2 separate regions of the Homo sapiens genome follow, and region 1 is linked to region 2. Evidence: fine-mapped expression QTL. Tissue or cell type: whole blood. Region 2 holds a variant in brackets; the other region holds the start of a gene. All regions are shown on one strand. Distances are from middle to middle.

The links. PIP is the estimated chance that this variant, and not a neighbour inherited with it, causes the effect.
Region 1: THBS4-AS1 starts here. The variant in region 2 is fine-mapped to the expression of THBS4-AS1 in whole blood (TOPMed, PIP 0.94).

What each region holds. Positions count from the first base shown.
Region 1 is chr5:80,080,628-80,088,950 of GRCh38, reverse strand. THBS4-AS1 (THBS4 antisense RNA 1) reads left to right here and starts at 5,286. Exons shown (of 8, transcript NR_109930.1): 1 at 5,286-5,451; 2 at 6,414-6,591. It overlaps THBS4 (thrombospondin 4), which reads right to left. Exons shown (of 22, transcript NM_003248.6): 21 at 6,406-6,545; 22 at 5,664-5,871. The coding sequence ends at 5,810. RefSeq lists an enhancer at 2,831-3,125 and silencers at 4,558-4,772, 5,888-5,977.
Region 2 is chr5:80,138,779-80,148,850 of GRCh38, reverse strand. It overlaps SERINC5 (serine incorporator 5), which reads left to right. Exons shown (of 12, transcript NM_001174072.3): 10 at 1,567-1,606; 11 at 2,617-2,761; 12 at 5,041-10,072. The coding sequence ends at 5,188. Among named protein-coding and RNA genes, the nearest start is that of THBS4-AS1, 60 kb to the right of the region's middle. RefSeq lists an enhancer at 2,850-3,351. The variant T/C (reference allele first, on the strand shown) is at 5,527.

The DNA of each region.
Region 1 (8,323 bases), 59 kb after region 2:
TACATCTATAAATATACAAATCTACTTATTACTTTATAGCAAAATTTATAATCACTTGTAAGCTTTTGATTGTCTAGTGCCATTTGTAAACTTAATTAAATTTCTTTAAATGCTCTAAATTCCATTTATAAATTTAATATATTTATAACAATATACTATGCTAATTTGTAATACATTATAAACTAAATTTAAATTGCATTTATAATGTTTTATTTTTATGTCACTTGTCTGACAAAACCTGCCTACGCACTTAAATAACCCTTGTAAATTAAAAAAATTTATACAGTGGATTATAAATTATCTGAACCACCTCAGTATCATTTACATATTCAACCAAATTCTCCCTACCTTCTGATTTAAAATCAGAAGTCTGAAATCAAATACTCAACTACAGACAATCCCCAACTTATAATGGTTTGACTTAAGATTTTTTTGACTTTATGATGGGCTTATCAAGATATTAAATGCCATGCTGGCTAACACGGTGAAACCCCATCTTTACTAAAAAAATACAAAAAATTAGCTGGGTGTGGTGGTGGGTGTCTGTGGTCCCAGCTACTCGGGAGGCTGAGGCAGAAGAATGGCGTGAAGCCAGGAGGCGGAGCTTGCAGTGAGCCGAGATCGCACCACTGCACTCCAGCCTGGGCGAGAGAGCAAGACTCCATCTAAAAAAAAAAAAAAAAAAAAAAATATATATATATATATATATATATATATAAAATGCATTTTCACTTATGATATTTCTGACTTGCCGTGGGTTTATCCCAGGATGTAACTACATGGTAAGTAAGGGAGCATCTGTATGCATTTTAAACTAGAATCCCACATTGAATTTATTGCATTCTGTATGCCAAATTCTCTTAGATATTTCAAGTACTTTGGCACATATACAAACATAATTCCCAAGCACCACACAAAAATATTAGGATGATGGGTCCAATTGACTTCAGCATATCTGTACTTAGTTCTACAATTGTAGAATTATTTCTCAGGAATAAAAGACCCTTCTCCACTAAGGAAACTCTACTGCCTCAGGAAATTTGGGGTGCATGTCAATTGTCTGAGGTTATTAACCAACGATTTGGGCGAGGTGGTAAAATGTGGAGCTTGTAGGAGGCATTCCTTATTCCTGAAGGAAAGGTTGTCTTTTACAGAAAACACAATTTATGGTGACTTTGGTTTTAAAATTAGTATCTGATTAAAGTTACAAATTACAAAACCTTAAGTTAAAAAATTCAACTTAAAAATCGTATTACTTTACTATATTCTATAAATATGCAAATCTACTTATTACTCTATAGCAAAATATATAATCACTTTTAGGCTTTTGATTAATGTTTAGTCCCATTTGCAAACTTAATTAAATTTCCTTAAACACTCTAAATCCCATTTATAAATGTAATATATTAATTTATGACATACTATGCTAATTTGTAACATTAAAAACAATATATTTAAATTTCATTTATGCATTTTTTTGTCATTTGATGAAACCTACCTATGTGCTTATATAACTTGTAAATTTAAAAAATGTATATAATGGATGAGAAATTATCTTAATCATCTCAATATTTTCATATTCAACCAAATTCTCCTACCTTCTGACTTAAAATCACAAGTCTAAAATCAAATACTATCTTTGGGAGGCCAAGGCAGGAGGATCATTTGAGCCCAGGAGTTTGAGACCAGCCTGGGCAACACAGTAAGACCCCATCTTTACAAAAAAAAATAGAAAAAATTAGCTGGATATGGTGGTATGAGCCTGTAAGTCTTAGCTACTTGGAAGGCTGAGGTGGAAGGACTATTTGAGCCAGGAGGTTGAGGCTGCAGTGAGCTGAGACTGCACCACTGCACTGCAGCCTGAGCGACAGTGAGATCCTGTCTCAATAATACTAATAATGATGATGATGATAAACCAAATATTCAACTATAAACAACTCCCAACTAATGATGGTTTGACGATTTTTATCAAAACATAACCCTATTTAAATTGAGGAGTATCTGGACTTCATGATGGATGACTTAAACTTTTGACTTGGGTTTATTGGAGTACTAAATGCACTTTGGACTTAAGATATGTTCAACTTACGGATTTATTAGGACATAGCCCCATTTTAAGGTGAAGAGCATCTGTCTGCATTCTATACTGGAATCACAAGTTCAATTTGCATTCTCTAATTATGCCAAATTCTCTTAGATATTTCAAGTACGTTGCCACATATTCAAACATAATTCCCCAACACCACACAAAAATATTAGGATGATGGGTCCAATTTACTTCATCATCTCTATACTTAATTCTATAGTACTAGAATTATTTCTCTGGAATAAAACACCCTCACCCACTGTGGAAACTATACTGCCCCAGGAAATTTGGGGTGAGCGTCTCTGTCTCCTGAGGTTGCCTATGACCAAATTGGGCGGGGCTGTAAGATGCGGAGCTGTGGACACTGCAGGGGGTTTCTTCATGCCACTGAAAGGTTGAGCCACCCTTACAGTCCCGATGTTACTGGGGACCCCAGGCGTGTATCCCAAACAGGGGCACCCCACCTCTCACCCCTAGATTTATGCTGTACAGTATCTAGTTTGCCCACGGCCTCACTTCTGGACCAGATTCTTTTTTGCTGCTTGAGTCTGTTCCCAGTTATCTTCTAGCCTAGGCAATAAAAAATGCCTACAGATGTTTCAATAGCAGGTGGCTGGATTCTATATCTTCCTCATTCTCTTTAACTCTATAGCCTGTCTCCAAAATTAACCTAAGGATAATCACCATAATACTTCTGGAGCCTAGGACTAATAACCTGGATGGGGAGAAGGAAGAGTTTTTTTTTCCTTTTTCTTGAGTGTAGGCAAAAAGGGCTGCACATCCCTTTGTGCACCTGCTCCCATGCCCCCAGGCCTCCTCTGGCTGCCCCCAGTGCCCTCATCCTGCCCCCAGAGATCTCCCACACTTCCCGTGGGATTCTACTCAGCCATGATCTTTTCCCTACAGTGACAATGCCTCTTTTCTTTCCCAGCCACGCCTCCCATTCCCCCACAGTGACAATGCCTCTTTTCTTTCCCAGCCACGCCTCCCATTCCCCCAGTACTTAAAAAAAAAAAAAAAAAGTGAGACAGGATCTTGCTATGTTGCCCATGCTGGACTTGAACTCCTGGGCTCAAGTGATCCTCCCCATTCAGCCTCCCAGGTAGCCAGGACCACAGGTGCACACCACCATGCCCAGCTCCTCAGTCTTCTCGATCTCCATGAAAAGTCAGGAGGTGAATGGGCATTGGAATGAATTCATACTAGTTGGTGAGAGACTGATGGCCACTCAGTCCTAGAGGTGTAAGATTCAAATGAGGCTCTTACTAACCTAATGGAACTGTAATAGGAATTTGAGTCATTGTGCTAAGGTTGAGTATAACAAGTATCCAAGAAGCCCAGGGAGTTACCTGGGGGAGAGCATACCACACCTGCTAGCTCATCCCGTCAGTCTGCAACTGGCTAGCTTCTCTCAAGTGCTTCCTGATTTTCACTTTTTTTTTTTTTTGTTTTTGTTTTTGGAGACACGTCTTGCTCTGTCGCCCAGGCTGGAGTGCAGTGGCACGATCTCAGCTCACTGCAACCTCCGCCTCCCGGGTTCAAGAGATTCTTGTGCTTCAGCCACCTGAGGAGCTGGGAGTATAGGCAGGAGCCACTGCACCTGGCCTAATTTTTGTATTTTTAGTAGAGATGGGGTTTTACCATGTTGGCCAGACTGGTCCCAAACTCCTGACCTCAAGCGATCCTCCCACCTAGGCCTCCCAAAGTGCTAGGATTACAGGTGTGAGCCATAGCACCCCACCCATTTTCACTTTTCTTACTTCATTTCTTATGCAAGAAATTTTCTGAAAGCCTCAAGTTTTCTACATCAGCTTCAAAAATATAAGGAGGGCCAACTAGGAATAGGACAAGGTAGAATAATCACTTGTGTGCTGATAAATATTTAACAACCAGTTCTCTGGAGCCCTGATTTGTAGTGTTTGCCAGTTTCTGTGTAAATACTCCCACCATGGCCAATTTCAAACTACCAACCGTTTAACTGGCTCACAATATTCCTAAAACTTGAATAGTTGGCTCTTATGAGCTGGTAGGAGTTGGCTTCAGCACACTGCTGGTTCTACATGCGTCTTTGTTTCTTGTTTTGCATAAATAACAAGTTTTGTCTTCCCAAAAATGTAATAAGCTCCCTAAGGGATGGAATTATGTTCTGGATCTCCTGTGGGCCCATGGTTTCTAAAATAGTTATAGACACAAAAGATTTAACCAAGAGAGTCTGTTTCCTGTGGACATACTGCGTTCTTGGGCTTGCACAGCCGACAACAGGGAGGCTGCCCCAGGGGTGGGCATGGTGTGGGTTGCTGCCTCCTTTCACCAGCCTCACTCTCATTGCCCAGGCTGGAGTACAGTGGTGCAATCTCTGCTCACTGCAGCCTCTGCCTCCCCAGCTCAAGTGATTCTCCCACTTCAACCTCCCAAATAGCTGGGACTATAGGCAAGTGGCACCACACCTGGCTAATTTTTGTATTTTTAGTAGAGATGGGTTTCGCCACGTTGGCCAGGCTGGTCTTGAACTCCTGGCCTCAAGTGATCTGCCTGCCTTGGCCTCCCAAAGTGCTTGGGACCACAGGCAAGTGCCACCACACCTGGCCCCATTGGAGTTTTTGATGTAGGAGATCAGATGTCCTGGATTACAAGGCCACACACATCTCCAGGCTGTACATGAGAGGAGGATGTCCAGAAATCCTCCAGATCTCATGCATGCACCATTGTATTTTCTCACTGTTAAAGTCATGATAAAACTGTGGTGTTTTTTTCTTCATACATGATTTAATATATCTCTAGGAATTCTGGAATAAGAAAATATATAACCGCACAGCAATATTCTTTGAAACAAAATTTCTAGAGAATTTATAAAAATTTGCTTGGATCTTGATTTACAATTGAAATACAAGAAAGGCTAGTGTACAAATTAGGCAAGTTTCTGTGCTGTACATCCAGCTACTGGTACCACAAATAGAGGATATGTTGTGACTTTTTGAGTTGAGGAGGACTTTTATGATCATGTACACTCTACTGTCCTTTAAGAGGCATTCATTCATTCATTCTTCGTTTATTAATTCAGTAAACATTTACTGGCTATTTACTACATTCCAGGTACTGTGGGGATATTGATTGTAATGACATGATCCTTTATTGTCAATATGCTTACAGTCCACTAGGGGGAGCCAAATATATAAATAAGCTTAAGAATTACGTTGAAGGGGCCAGAATAGAAGTCTGTGGAAGGTGTGGGATGGGATGACAGCATCAGAAAGAATTGGGCAAATCTGTCCCAGGACTAGGTCAGAAAAACGCCTCCCTAGGGAAGGTGCCACCCCAAACACGTGTTTCTGAGACCCCTTACCCGAAATAAGGAGGCTGCCAAGGTGAGCATGGAACGGTTAGGCGTTTTGTATGGAGCAAACTGGGGGGACCCCAGCTGAGACCTCTGGCCTGGGCCTTGTGATTCACGCATAGGCTCATCTTATCGGCCACCGGGTCTGAGAAGAAACTACCACCCTGCAAGTTAACAGGGATCCCTCCGAGAACGGGCACCTCAAAGCCTGAGCCACGTGAGAGCAATGTCTGAGCAACACGGTTTTTAAAAATGATCTCTTCTCCTTTATTGCCACATTCACATAAAACGTTTTGATATATTTGGGTTGGTAAAAGCTAAAGAAAATTGAAGTTAAAATATATATGGTTTTAGTGTTCCGAAAAGCAGTTACAGATTGCTTCCTTGGTTTAATTATCGAAGCGGTCGAAATTCTGGGTTTGAAACTCTTGGAAGTCCTCAGGGATGGTGTCTGCAATAGGAATGGGCACAGGGAGGTTAGCGAGGCTCCTTCCACCCCGGACCCCGGACCCCCGCCCGCGGCTCAGGCGTCCTGTAGGGGGCGCTGTTAGCCCGCCCAGGACGCCCCGCAGGCCCTCGCCGCCATTTTCTCCTGCAGGCTGCTTTGCAAACCGTTGGCTTAAAGCCCAGGAGTGCTCCTTCCCGGCCGTGCAGAAAATCAGCAGGCAGAATGGATTTTGCATCTGTGATTATGTTTTAACCACATGAAAATAAAGGCTTCCTGTAAATTAAATCTGACTGGATTTCTCACTGAACCCCAAACCCTAAACCATGCAGTTAAATTCTATGGGTCTTAATTTCCACATGGATAAAATAGGATAAATGTGATCTGCTTTTTACTTCTGGTACACAGGGACTATCAGGTTTTAATGACTATGTGGTATGAGCGTTGGGCTTTTGGGGGGGAAGTGCGGTATAAAAATAAGGTGGCAGTGTTTGACTAATTCTAGTAACAATGTTGAACAGTAACGAGAATGCACATTACCATTGCAGCGATACTTGAGGTTGGACCAGATGATGTTTTCTTGAGAGAAGCAGAAAACGCCAAGTCGGCCTCCACGCATTGTGGTGTCTATGGTGACGCCAGAGTCAGCCACCAACTCAGAGCCTTCATAAAATCGTACCCTGCGGACAACACGGCCGGAGGGGCCTCCATGAAATCCAACCCGGGGTAAAGTGCCCACTGTGAGGCCCAGGGGCCCCACTTCTTATACGTACCTGCGTCTTTCTTTGCTCTGTTTTAGGCTCCATTTTTCGCTGACCTGGATTGTACTGTAGCTGTTGCCACTTACTTACTAGACTGGAAGTCCTTGAGGGCAGGGACCGTGTGTGTCCGTGTGTGTGTGGAGGGGGGTGGGGGGTGTTTCTTCCCAACTTCTGTCTCTCACAAGGCCTAACATGATGTTGGTCACACTATCAAACTTGAGTTAAAAATCAAACCAAACCAAACCTGCTATCTTGAGTGAGAAAGTTTTGTGTCTTATTGTCATGTGAGTTGCCTTGTCTAGATACCATGCTTAAAAACTTTGGCTTTTCCTTTGGTCTGATTTATATCTTTTGGTGGAATCTCAGAGCAATGATTCTCCACAGGAGACAGCACTCCCTAAGTAGAGTTGGAGGAATCTGTGGGGACACTTTGGGTTGTCACAGTGGCACTGAGTGATGGCAGCCAGGGATGCTGGATGGCGAGCAATGCCCTGGCGAGAACAATCAAAACCTGTCCTGCATTCCATACACTTCTGGAGTGTTCCTCAGACACCAGGGTAGGTAAAGAGCAACTATCAGGGCCTAGAACCTGACTCACTTTCACTTGTAAACAGCAAGTATATTTTGCACAAATTTTAATATAAACTATATTTTCCAGGGTAAATTGAGAAAATTTGTTTGAAAATTAACATTCTAAAATGTGTACCATTTGAGAAATTTACATTGCTGTCATCAACCAGTGTAACAAACATTTAAGTCACTGACACAACAGTCTGTTAGAATGTCACCTTCGTAGTGATTCTAGGCATGGGTGCAAGTGTCTGTTTCATTTTGTCTTCTGGTGTGGCTGTGCTCAAATATTTAAATTATTTTGTTATAAATTATTCTTATTTCTCTATGATATTGTTAGGGCTCACATTGATTTTCTAGATTATACGTGTAGGTAGGTTGTAATTTCTATGATTCCATTTTGGGACGGAAAAGGGGGCATTTCAAAATATTTATAATAAAAAAGGGGCATTGGGCTTAATAGGGCTGAGAACATGATCATCTCACTGTGAGACAAAAAGAGTACATTTGACATAATGTCACAAAGAGAAACAAAACATGAATTTGCCCTCATGATTTTCTTTTTTCCACAAGGCTGCTTTCCTGCCCTGATGAGGAGAATGCACTCAGTACTCCTTCCTAAATATCCTACATAGGCTAGGATGGGTGTTGATCTGCAAGTTCAAATGAAGAAGAACACTATCTACATTTCAAAGACACAGCCCTAAGCCTCCTAACTCCCGAGAATACTTAAAAAACAACAACAAAAAAGTCCTATAAAGAAAGAAGTCAGACTACTTTGGCCTACATGATGATCAGTTCATGCCACGTGTAGTAGATGTCAGGCTTTGTGCTAGGCACTGGGGAGATCAAGATAAAATAATAAGCTATGGCTAGGCACAGTGGCCCATGCCTGTAATCCCAGCACTTTGGGAGGCCGAGGCGGGTGGATCACGAGGTCAGGAGATCAAGACCAGCCTGGCCAGCATGGTGAAACCCCATCTCTACTAAAAATACAAAAATTAGCCTGGCGTGATGGCGCGTGCCTGTAATCCCAGCTACTCGGGAGGCTGAGGCAGAAGAATCACTTGAACCAGGAAGGCGGAGGTTGCAGTGAGCTGAGATCACGCCACAGTACTCCTGCCTGG
Region 2 (10,072 bases):
GATACACAAATGAGATGAAGGCTCAAGCTCTCATATTCTTATCCTTGGCTCTCTGTTCTTTGTAGTTGAAATATCTTCAGCCACAAAGTGCTAAGGGCCCTGCACTTCCCAGGCTGTCTTAGTACTCTGTTTACCAGAGTCCTTCTGAAATCACATACTTTTTTTCTTTGCTTTTTTTTTTTTGAGACAGGGCCTCACTCTGTCACCCAGGCTGGAGTGCAGTGGTGGGATCACAGCTTACTGCAGCATCAAACTCATGGGCTTAAGCAGTCTTCCTCCCTCAGTCTCCCAAATAGCTGGGACTATACATAACCTGATTTTTTAAAATTAAGTTTATTGTTTTGAGTAGGTAAGAAATAATGGCCGGGTGCAGTGGCTCACGGCTGTAATCCCAGCACTTTGGGAGGCCGAGGTGGGTGGATCACCTGAGGCCTGGAGTTCGAGACCAGCCTGACCAACATGGAAAAACCCCGTCTCTACTAAAAATACAAAATTAGCCAGGCATGGTGGCACATGCCTGTAATCCCAGCTACTTGGGAGGCTGAGGCAGGATAATTGCTTGAACCCAGGAGGCAGAGGTTGCAGTGAGCCGAGATCGTGCCATTGCACTCCAGCCTGGGCAATAAGAGCAAATCTCCATCTCAAAAAAAAAAAAAAAAAAGAATAAAAAATACGCAAGGTACCAGAGATGCTTCAAAGGCAAGCATTCCCTCCATCCCTGCCCACGGCCCGTGCAACAGCTTGATTTTGATAGGAAACATGGGTAGGCTGCTTCCAGATTCCTTCACTTTACTATTTCAGATCCTACCAGCTTCGCCAAGCTCCTAGATACCACGTGTTACCTATTGTGAATCATGGATCTTGGTGTCCCCATCCTGCATTCGTCTGTTCCAGCTCTGTCACTAAGCTAGTTTGGTGACTTTGGCCAGTTAACCTGCCTGACCTCAGTTTCCTCAGCTGTACACAGGATAATAATAAGCCCAATGCAAAGGTCAAAGAGGGTTTAATGAAATAACATTGAAAGCAAAGCACGAGAAGGGAGCACCAGGAGAGTGGGGCTCTTGTCACGTTCATTGGGTTTCACATTGAGTTCTCCAGAAGCAGAGGCTGAGGCAGTTTGTTGCGTGGGATATTTATTAAAAGTCAGCACATGTGGGAGGGAGAAGGGGAAGGGGAGGCAAAATTGGGCAGAGGGTGAAGTTGAAGGACAGTGCAGCTGGACAAAGCCTCCCTAACCCTAGGAGCCATAAAGGCACGGCCTTTACCCCTGCCATGATCAGCCATTCCATGGCAGTTACCCAGGAAGGGTAAAGGAGCTCCTGTCTCGAGGCTCTGCTCTCAGCATTCATGGTAGCAGGAGCGAGCACCAAGTCCACGGATGAGGATCTCTGTGGCACATCTCCCTCCATGGGGTTTCCTGTCACCAACACCCAGCACACCTGGGAAAGAACAGTCCACATCTTTTGAAGGGCCTGGGAGGTGGTTCAAATAAGGGTTACTGTTGTCTTGCTGAGGTGGACTAGAAATAGAACACAAGCCGCCTGACTGTTGCTTTTGCTTTCACAGATAGCTCGCTGTTGTTTTTGCTTCAGTCCTGGTGGAGAGGGTAAGCAGAGCGCTTTTATTCTTTGCACCTGTGTGGCACTGCAGACCTATAACTCTAATCTGTAGTCATTTGGGATTCAGACACAAATAACTTGAATAGTAAGGAGAAAGTTTTATTCTAAAGCTGACTTACTACTTATACACTTTTCACATTCTTCCTGAAGGATAGCTGAGTTTTGTTTGTGTTGGTATTCTGGTAGAGAGAATCAGTCCAAATTTTGGTTTAAATGTAAGTTAAATTATACAGTGAGATTTAGAGAATCAGAGAGCACATTTTTTAAAAAGGAGTGATTTGGAAAATACCAAGAGGTCCTGACACCTTATTTTGGGGCCATTTCATTCCTTCACCTTACTTTCCAAGGTGGATTGGAGGATTCCAAGGGCTTGAGAACTAACTCTTGTTTTACTCTCACTTTCTGCTGAGCTTATAGTAAGTTTTACGTCTTTAAGGGTTTTTAAGGGTTCTCTTTCTGTTAAAATAAATGTGGCAGGGCAGGCACGGTGGCTTATGCCTGTAATCCCAGCACTTCGGGAGGCTGAGGTGGGTGGATCACCTGAGGTCAGGAGTTCGAGACCAGCCTGGCCAACATGGCAAAACCCTGTCTCTACTAAAAAACAATACAAAATTAGCCGGGCGTGGTGGCGTGTGCCTGTAATCCCAGCTACTTGGGAGGCTGAGGCAGGAGAATCGCTTGAACCTGGGAGGTGGAGGTTGCAGTGACCCAAGATCATGCCACTGTACTCCAGCCGGGGCAAAAAGAGTGAAACTCCATCTCAAAAAATAAATAAATAAAAATAAATGTGGCATTAGGTAACTCTTCCTGTTACGGAAGTTGCTAGGGTGGAGTGGGGGTTTTGTGCTTAGGGCACAGATTGAAGTTGCCAGAGGGTACAGATGGCTTTCTGGCATCTTTTCTACTGACAGCCCTGTAGAATTAGCGAGCGTGACTTTGCTGAATGGTAAACACACACATTCACTCATTGAGCCTGGGCTCCCTCTGTGCTTCACAGACACTGAAGAGCAGCAGCCGGGGAAGGAGGGACCACGGGTCATTTATGACGAGAAGAAAGGCACCGTCTACATCTACTCCTACTTCCACTTCGTGTTCTTCCTAGCTTCCCTGTATGTGATGATGACCGTCACCAACTGGTTCAAGTGAGTGGCCCATTTGCTTAGGTATTTTTGAAGCAAAGCCTTAAAGTTAAGAGTTAAGTACTGTTCGTGTTTGTTTGTTTGAGAAGGAGTCTCACTCTGTTGCCCAGGCTGGAGTGCAGTGGCACGATCCTGGCTCACTGCAACCTCTGCTTCCCAGGTTCAAGCGATTCTTGTGCCTCAGCCTCCCGAGTAGCTGGGATTACATGCATGTACCACCATGCCTAGCTAATTTTTATATTTTTAGTTGAGACGGGGTTTTGCCATGTTGGCCAGGCTGGTCTTGAACTCCTGACCTCAAGTGATCCACCTGCCTTGGCCTCTCAAAGTGCTGGGATTACAAGCGAGTTCTGAGTTTTAACAGTGGATGGGTATGTTTTAACCCTGGAAACTGGTGATGCTTATGGCAACTTTAAGAAAATGGAAAGTTAGCTCTATATGGACAGTCTGGAAAACATGGTAATGAAGGAAAAATAGGAACTCCTAAGCATTCATCTGCCTTTCAGAAAGAGAAAATATCCCTTTTTTTTCTACTTCAAATTTTGTGTATCTTTTTCCCCATTTTTCTTCATTTTCATTACAAAAATTGGAAACATCTTTTTTTAAAATACAAACTAAATGTGGAATTATGAAAAGTAACAATGTGGTACCCCCCCGCCTCTACTTCCCCCACACAGATAACCACTGCTAGGATGTGTATCCTTCTCCTTTTCTGTGCATTTATAAACCTCTGTAGTTTTTTTTTGTTTTTAGTTGGAGTCTTGCTTTGTCACCCAGGCTGGAGTGCAGTGGCGCAATCTCGGCTCACTGCAACCTCCGCCCCTGGGTTCAAGTGATTCTCCTGCCTCAGCCTTTTGAGTAGCTGGGATTACAGGTGCTGCCACCACACTGGCTAATTTTTTTTTTTATTATTTTTAGTAGAGACGGAGTTTCACCATATTGGCTAGGCTGGTCTCGAACTCCTGACCTTGTGATCCACCTGCCTCAGCCTCCCAAAGTGCTGAGATTATAGGCATGATCCACCATGTCCAGCTAATTTTTTTTTTAACATAAATGTCATTATACATGTTTTCCCCTGGAGGCTTTTTTTTTTTTAACTTGGCAGTACATGATTGACCTGGCCTTCCCTGGCACTACACAGAGGTTCATACTTTTTCTACAGGTCCACAGCTTTGGTTGTATCATAATTTTTTTGACCACTAAGTTAAGCTTAGACATGTAGGCTCATTGTGCTTCCTTTTATCATTCATTCAACAGATGTGCAAGTGGCTCCTATGTGCCACACGGTTCTATGAGGCAGGATTTATAGTCCAGCAGGAGAGACAGACTATGACGCAAGTCAAATATGGTGTGTTAGATGGTGATGAGTATTGGGGAGAAAAATAAAATTAGGAGAGGGAATTGGGGTAGGGGTGGTGGGAGTGGTGGTTTCAAGCACAGTGATTGGAGAGATTCTTCCTGAAGGAGGAGAGGAGAAGGGAGCTTTAATGCTTCCCAGTGATGCTTTGGGAACTCCTGGGAATTTTTGGCTTGGAAAGCTTAAGAAAAGATGGAGAAGGCTATAATTAAAAAGGCAGATAATAACAAATGTCGAGGAAGTGGAGAAATTGGAACCCTCTTACATTGCTGGTTTGAATGTGAAATCTGCTTTGGAAAAGAGTTTGGCATCTCCTTAAACAATTAAACATTGAGTTACAATGTAATCCAGCTCTTCCACTACTCCTGAGCGTATACCTAAGACAAAAAGAAAACTAGGTCCACAAAACTTACACAGCGGTGTTCATACAAGCATCATTGGTGATAATCAAAAAGGGGAAACATCCCAAATGACCATCAGCTGGTGACTGCCTAAACAAAATGTGCTCTATCCATACAATAAGATACTATTTAGCAGTAAAAAGGAATGAAGGACTGACACATGCTGCCGCGTGGCTGAGCCTTGGAAATTGTATGCCAGGCAAAAAAGCCACACACAAGAGACCATGTGATTCCTTTTATATCAACTGTCCAGAATAGGCAAATTCATAGAGGCAGAAAGTAGATTGGTGAATGCGGGGGGTGGGCTGAGGGGGCCATGGGGAAGGGGAGAGCACCTAAGGGGTGCATGATTTCTTTTGGGGGTGATGAGAATGTTTGGAAATGGGTAGTGTTGATGGTAGCACAAGTCTGTGTATGAATACATTGAAAGCCGTTGAATTATACATTATAAATGGATGTGAATTAGTGAATTGTATCTCAATATATTCCTGCTTTGACCGCGGCTAGGTGTCTTGTTTCCACAGCTACGAAAGTGCCAACATCGAGAGCTTCTTCAGCGGGAGCTGGTCCATCTTCTGGGTCAAGATGGCCTCCTGCTGGATATGCGTGCTGTTGTACCTGTGTACGCTGGTCGCTCCCCTCTGCTGCCCCACCCGGGAGTTCTCTGTGTGATGATATCGGCGGTCCCCTGGGCTTTGTGGGCCTACAGCCTGGAAAGTGCCATCTTTTGAACAGTGTCCCCGGGGCAGGGACTGGCGCCCTGTGCCTGAGTGGGTCTGAAAAAGCTTTGAGAGAGAAAAAAAAAAATCTCCTGATTAGCTTTTTACTTTTGAAATTCAAAAAGAAACTACCAGTTTGTCCCAAAGGAATTGAAATTTTCAACCAAACTGATCATGGTTGAAATATCTTACCCCTAGGAACTGGATACCAGTTATGTTGACTTCCTTCTGCATGTTTTTGCCAAAACAGAATTTGGGGCACAGCATCTTTTCACAGGGATAAAAATATCT[T/C]GTGGGGCCAGTCATTCTCATCCTCGGAATAGAAAAACATGCCAAAATCTTGAGTCCCCAGCGCCTAACAGAATCCAGACCCCTCTCACTCACTTCCGCCTCTTAGAGCCTTGTCCCCAGGGGGCTTTGAGGACAGGACTCAGCCTGCAGGGCCCCTGGTATTTATAGGGTCCAAGAGGAGGCACCTGCTTTTCAACTGCACCCTCAGTGCTGCCTCTTCACGGCCCCTAAACGTTTCCCTTTGAGGTTGTGATGCTGGGAATCACAGACTTCACTCTCTGCCTGCACCCTTCCCCGAGGTCTCATCTTTTCTGGGTCCCACATCTTTGTAATAATGTGAAAAAGCACAATTTGTCTGATCACCCCCCAGGTGGTTCCCCACCTTATTATCACTACCTGATCCGAGTTACTGCAATAAGTACGGCGCTTATTTATGGTGTTATTCACATGATTATAGAACAAGATTCATGTTTTCTCTGCCTAAGCAATGGAGGGCTATCATTCTTACTTGTTTGTGCTGTTGATAATGATAATACTTTTAGGACCTTAACTGAAAAGCTGCTTCGTGTTGAAGCCTGCTGCATGCACTGCTCTTTCAGTTGTTGAGGTCAGCCCCTCAGTTTTTTCTCCACCTTGAGGCCTTTGAAACTGTAAAAGCGGAAGTCGTTTTGTGTTCTGGATCTGTAACGTGACCATACCGTTCAGGTTCATGCTGGCATCCTTGGAGTAGGTTTGCTAATGTGAGAATTTCTGAGGTGAGGATCTCAGACACACTGACCAGAAGAAGCTTGTTAGGCAATGTGTGGAAGTGGCCGAATATACTTAAAAAGAGGTGCGCAGAGGCAGGCGGATCACTTGAGGTCAGGAGTTGCAAGACCAGCCTGGCTAACATGGTGAAACCCTGTCTCTATTAAAAATAGAAAAATTAGCCGGGCATGGTAGCGTGTGCCTGTAATGCCAGCTACTCGAAGGCTGAGGCATGAGAATCACTTGAACCCGGGAGGCGGAGGTTGCAGTGAGCCGAGATCACGCTGCACAGGAATTTCCAAAATACGTACTTGCAAAGTAATACAGAAACGTGACTTTCGGCAGCTACCCAAGATGATGCCTATTTTCAGTGTTGATGTATTCAGGCAGGGAAAAGGTTTACTTGGTGGAAACTCCTGTTAGAATTTCATTCGGGGTGGAAAGAATCTTCTCGAGCTCTCTGTAAGTGAGGATCTAAGAATAAAAGGCTCAGCCTAGTCATTTTTTTCTGTGCCCTACTGTATGAGTTGGGCAGAATTGAGTGCCACCTAAGCTGGGCTTCTGTGTGCCAAAATGCTGGTGGGTGAAATTAGTGAAATTCTTTCTATTCATTCCTTTGCCCTTCTCCCAAGAAAACCCATGGGGAAACAAATTACAGGGGATGAATTCCTTTAGAACTTTCCCTACTTAGAGTGTTTGAGATTCAGTTTCAAAAGGCACTCCATCTGTGTGTGTGGTTTAGAGAGCCTTGTTTTGTAAATTCCATTAAATTTCCTTTTTTAGGGCAGGAGCTCTGTACTCAGCAGTTAAAAGATTCATCTGGAGTCGCAAAATGAAAAGCCGTGTTCTAACCTGAGGAATCAGTTAGGGGACAGGAGTTCCGTGGGCCAGGAATGGGCTCAGGGAGTGGGGCTGCGTGTCACACACAGTAGCTGTGTTGCAGTGGCCTAGGGCCTTGGGGGTTGTCTTTAGGAAACACCCTGAGGGGAAGCAGGTAAAGAGCCTGGGCAGTATTGTGACTAGTTTCATTGTTTTCCTCCTGCTGAGGTCTAGCAGAGCCCTTGCTTTGTCCTCTCGGCTGGGTCTGGCTGCCAGCTGGTGTGATTTGAGAAACTGACCTTACGCGCAGTCAAGGTCCAGCTGACAAGGCCTTGTATTCCTTGGCTGGCCGTGATTGGCCCTTTCCTCTGCAGAAAGCAGCTTAGGGAAGCCCAAGCAAGGGAGTGTGGCCGGTAGAAGGCCCTCGTCGCTTCCTTCTGGAGCCAGCCCAGCCACACAACGTTTTCCAGATGCGTGAGTCTGGTTTGTGACATCCCGTTCCCTTCTGCCGGTTGGTCTGATGCAAGAGGAAGAGTTACAGTTGCTCTGAATTTTATTCTCAGCTGAAAATGTTAGCACGTGTATCTGGATGAACAAAACAGATGTGGATGTATCTGAGGATTGAGGGACTATCAATGCAGAGTTAATGTTAATGGTTATTAATTGTGATATACAATACTCAGGTGAGGAGTCAACATTCCTGGATTTAAAGAATCTACAGTTTTGTGCAATTGTGATTTGAGAAACTGGAAACATTGTGCCAATGGCTTTGAGTTCCTATAACAACGGTGTTAATTTGATTAACTCACTGATATCTTTTAAAAATAATAGACATTTGCTTCCTACACCTTTTTGTACATGACCTAAAGAGTATATTCCCAGAAGCTGCTGGTCAGACACATTTAGGGATGACAGTTGAAGAGGACTTTTTTAAAGCTGCATGTGAATATTTCCTCTGTGTGATTTGTCTGATGTAGAAAAGTTTTCCCCTCATTTTTATGAGTAAAAACACTAAGTGGGTGGCAGGGGGGTGGGGGTTCTTATGGGAGTGTCATACCGCGGCATGTTACCTGACTGGAGACTAGAGACTATTTCCATTATAAGCCTTCAGAAACCCAACCACGTCTTTACTGTGTCTAGCTTTTTAAATACTGATTGGTTAGTTTTATTTTTGCCCACAGTTTCTTGGGCAAAAAGGTTCTTCATTTTGTCTGAAAAAGAAATTATTTGCCAGAGGTATTTGGAGCCTCTTTGAAGGGGAGATAGAGTGGGGGTGGGTTGTGGGGAGGGTGGAGTTATTGGGGTTTTGGGGTTCTGTTTCCATACAACATTGTTTATTTCCGATTCCTCAGAAGATCCTTTATTATGAATAACCTCAGTGTAATGTTAATTTCCTGTCCCCATGTCAAAATTGTCACCCTAAGCCTTTTTTTTTTTTTTTTTTTTTTTTTTTGGAGACGGGCTCACTCTGTCAGCCACGCTGGAGTGCAGTGACATGATCTTGACTCATGGCAGGCTTGACCTCCTGGGCTCAAGGACCACCTCCCAAGTAGCTGAGACCACAGGTTTGCCCCATCACACCTGGCCGATTTTTATTTTTTTGTAGAGATGGGGTTGTCCAGGCTGGTCTCAAACTCCTGAGCTCAAGCAATGTGCCCGCCTTGGCTTCCCAAAGTGCTGGGATTATAGGCGTAAACCACTGCACGCAGCCTACCCTCTGCCTTTTTAAGATGATGTATTTATTTAATTTTTGCCATCATTGGTGCTTCACCTTCCTGCGAAGGAAATTCCAGAGCCTGTATTTAAGCTACCTAGGCTTTTACACTCCCTTTATTGCCTTTCCAAATAGTATCTCATTTGGTGTACTCTAGTGTCCTATACCTCTTGGAAACGAAAGAGGGCCCAACCTACAACTAAGAAGGGACAAACCTTGAACTAAGTAAGACCTTACACACCCAGAAAGAACACTGGGCCCTCCTTCTTCAGGGACAATGCAGTAGCCACTTGGCTTGTGGAATTTACTGAAGGCTATTTCCTGTAACTTGCTAGTTAACTTAGTTTTGTATTTCAGGCAGAGGTGCGCTCTGTAATGTTGGGCCTTTGACTTCACAGTACTGGAGAGCTGTTCACACAGATGTTTAGACCTTTCTCTCTCTCTCTCTTTTCTTCTTTCTCAACAACTCTTTCACAGAGGCAGTCATTTTGAAAGGTTGAAATATTTGGCCTTTACCAAAGAGCTTTTTTTTTCCTTAAGCAAAATCCTTTCAGAAAGAAACAAATGGGGAAGGGCAGATTAAGAATGCATATGTCCCAATCCACTTCTATAGGAGTTTAATCATATTCACATGAGTAAAATGATGGAAGAACTCTTTAAGGTAATCCTTTGGGATAAAGGATCCTGGGAAGTTCTCTCAGGTAAAGAAAGCTTACAGCAGATTTGTAATATATGTCTGGAGAGCTATTTATAAGAAATTTAAGAGGATTGTTTTGTTTTCCTTTATTAAAGATTTAAGCCTTTTTACTTTGCAAAAAGAAAACTACAAAAGTTTTATAGATATAACTTTGCTAATTTTTTAAACTTTTCTGAAACGATTAGCTGTAGCCAAATTATGTGGTTACGTTTTGCTACATTAGAATTTGAAAATGCAATATGTGTGGTAAATCTACTGTTTGAAATTTATAATGGTCTCTGATATGATTCGAATTTTGGTAACTTTTGAAAGTTATTTTCCCCCTTTAGTCATGGATTTCTATTTGTTTTTTAATGTTAATTTTTCTAGAAAGCATCTGAATTGACTAGGCTTTTCCTATATAAAAAACTCAAAACTTGTTAACTCTGTACTTTAATAAAATTTAAAATTAAAACTGTGTTGTTTTTTTCTCTTCTGCTAGATACATATATAATTAAAGTACTCAAGTTAGTTGTTTTGCAGAGATGTTGCCTTCAGATGTTAATCAGGTCTCTCAAGTTTCATGGAGT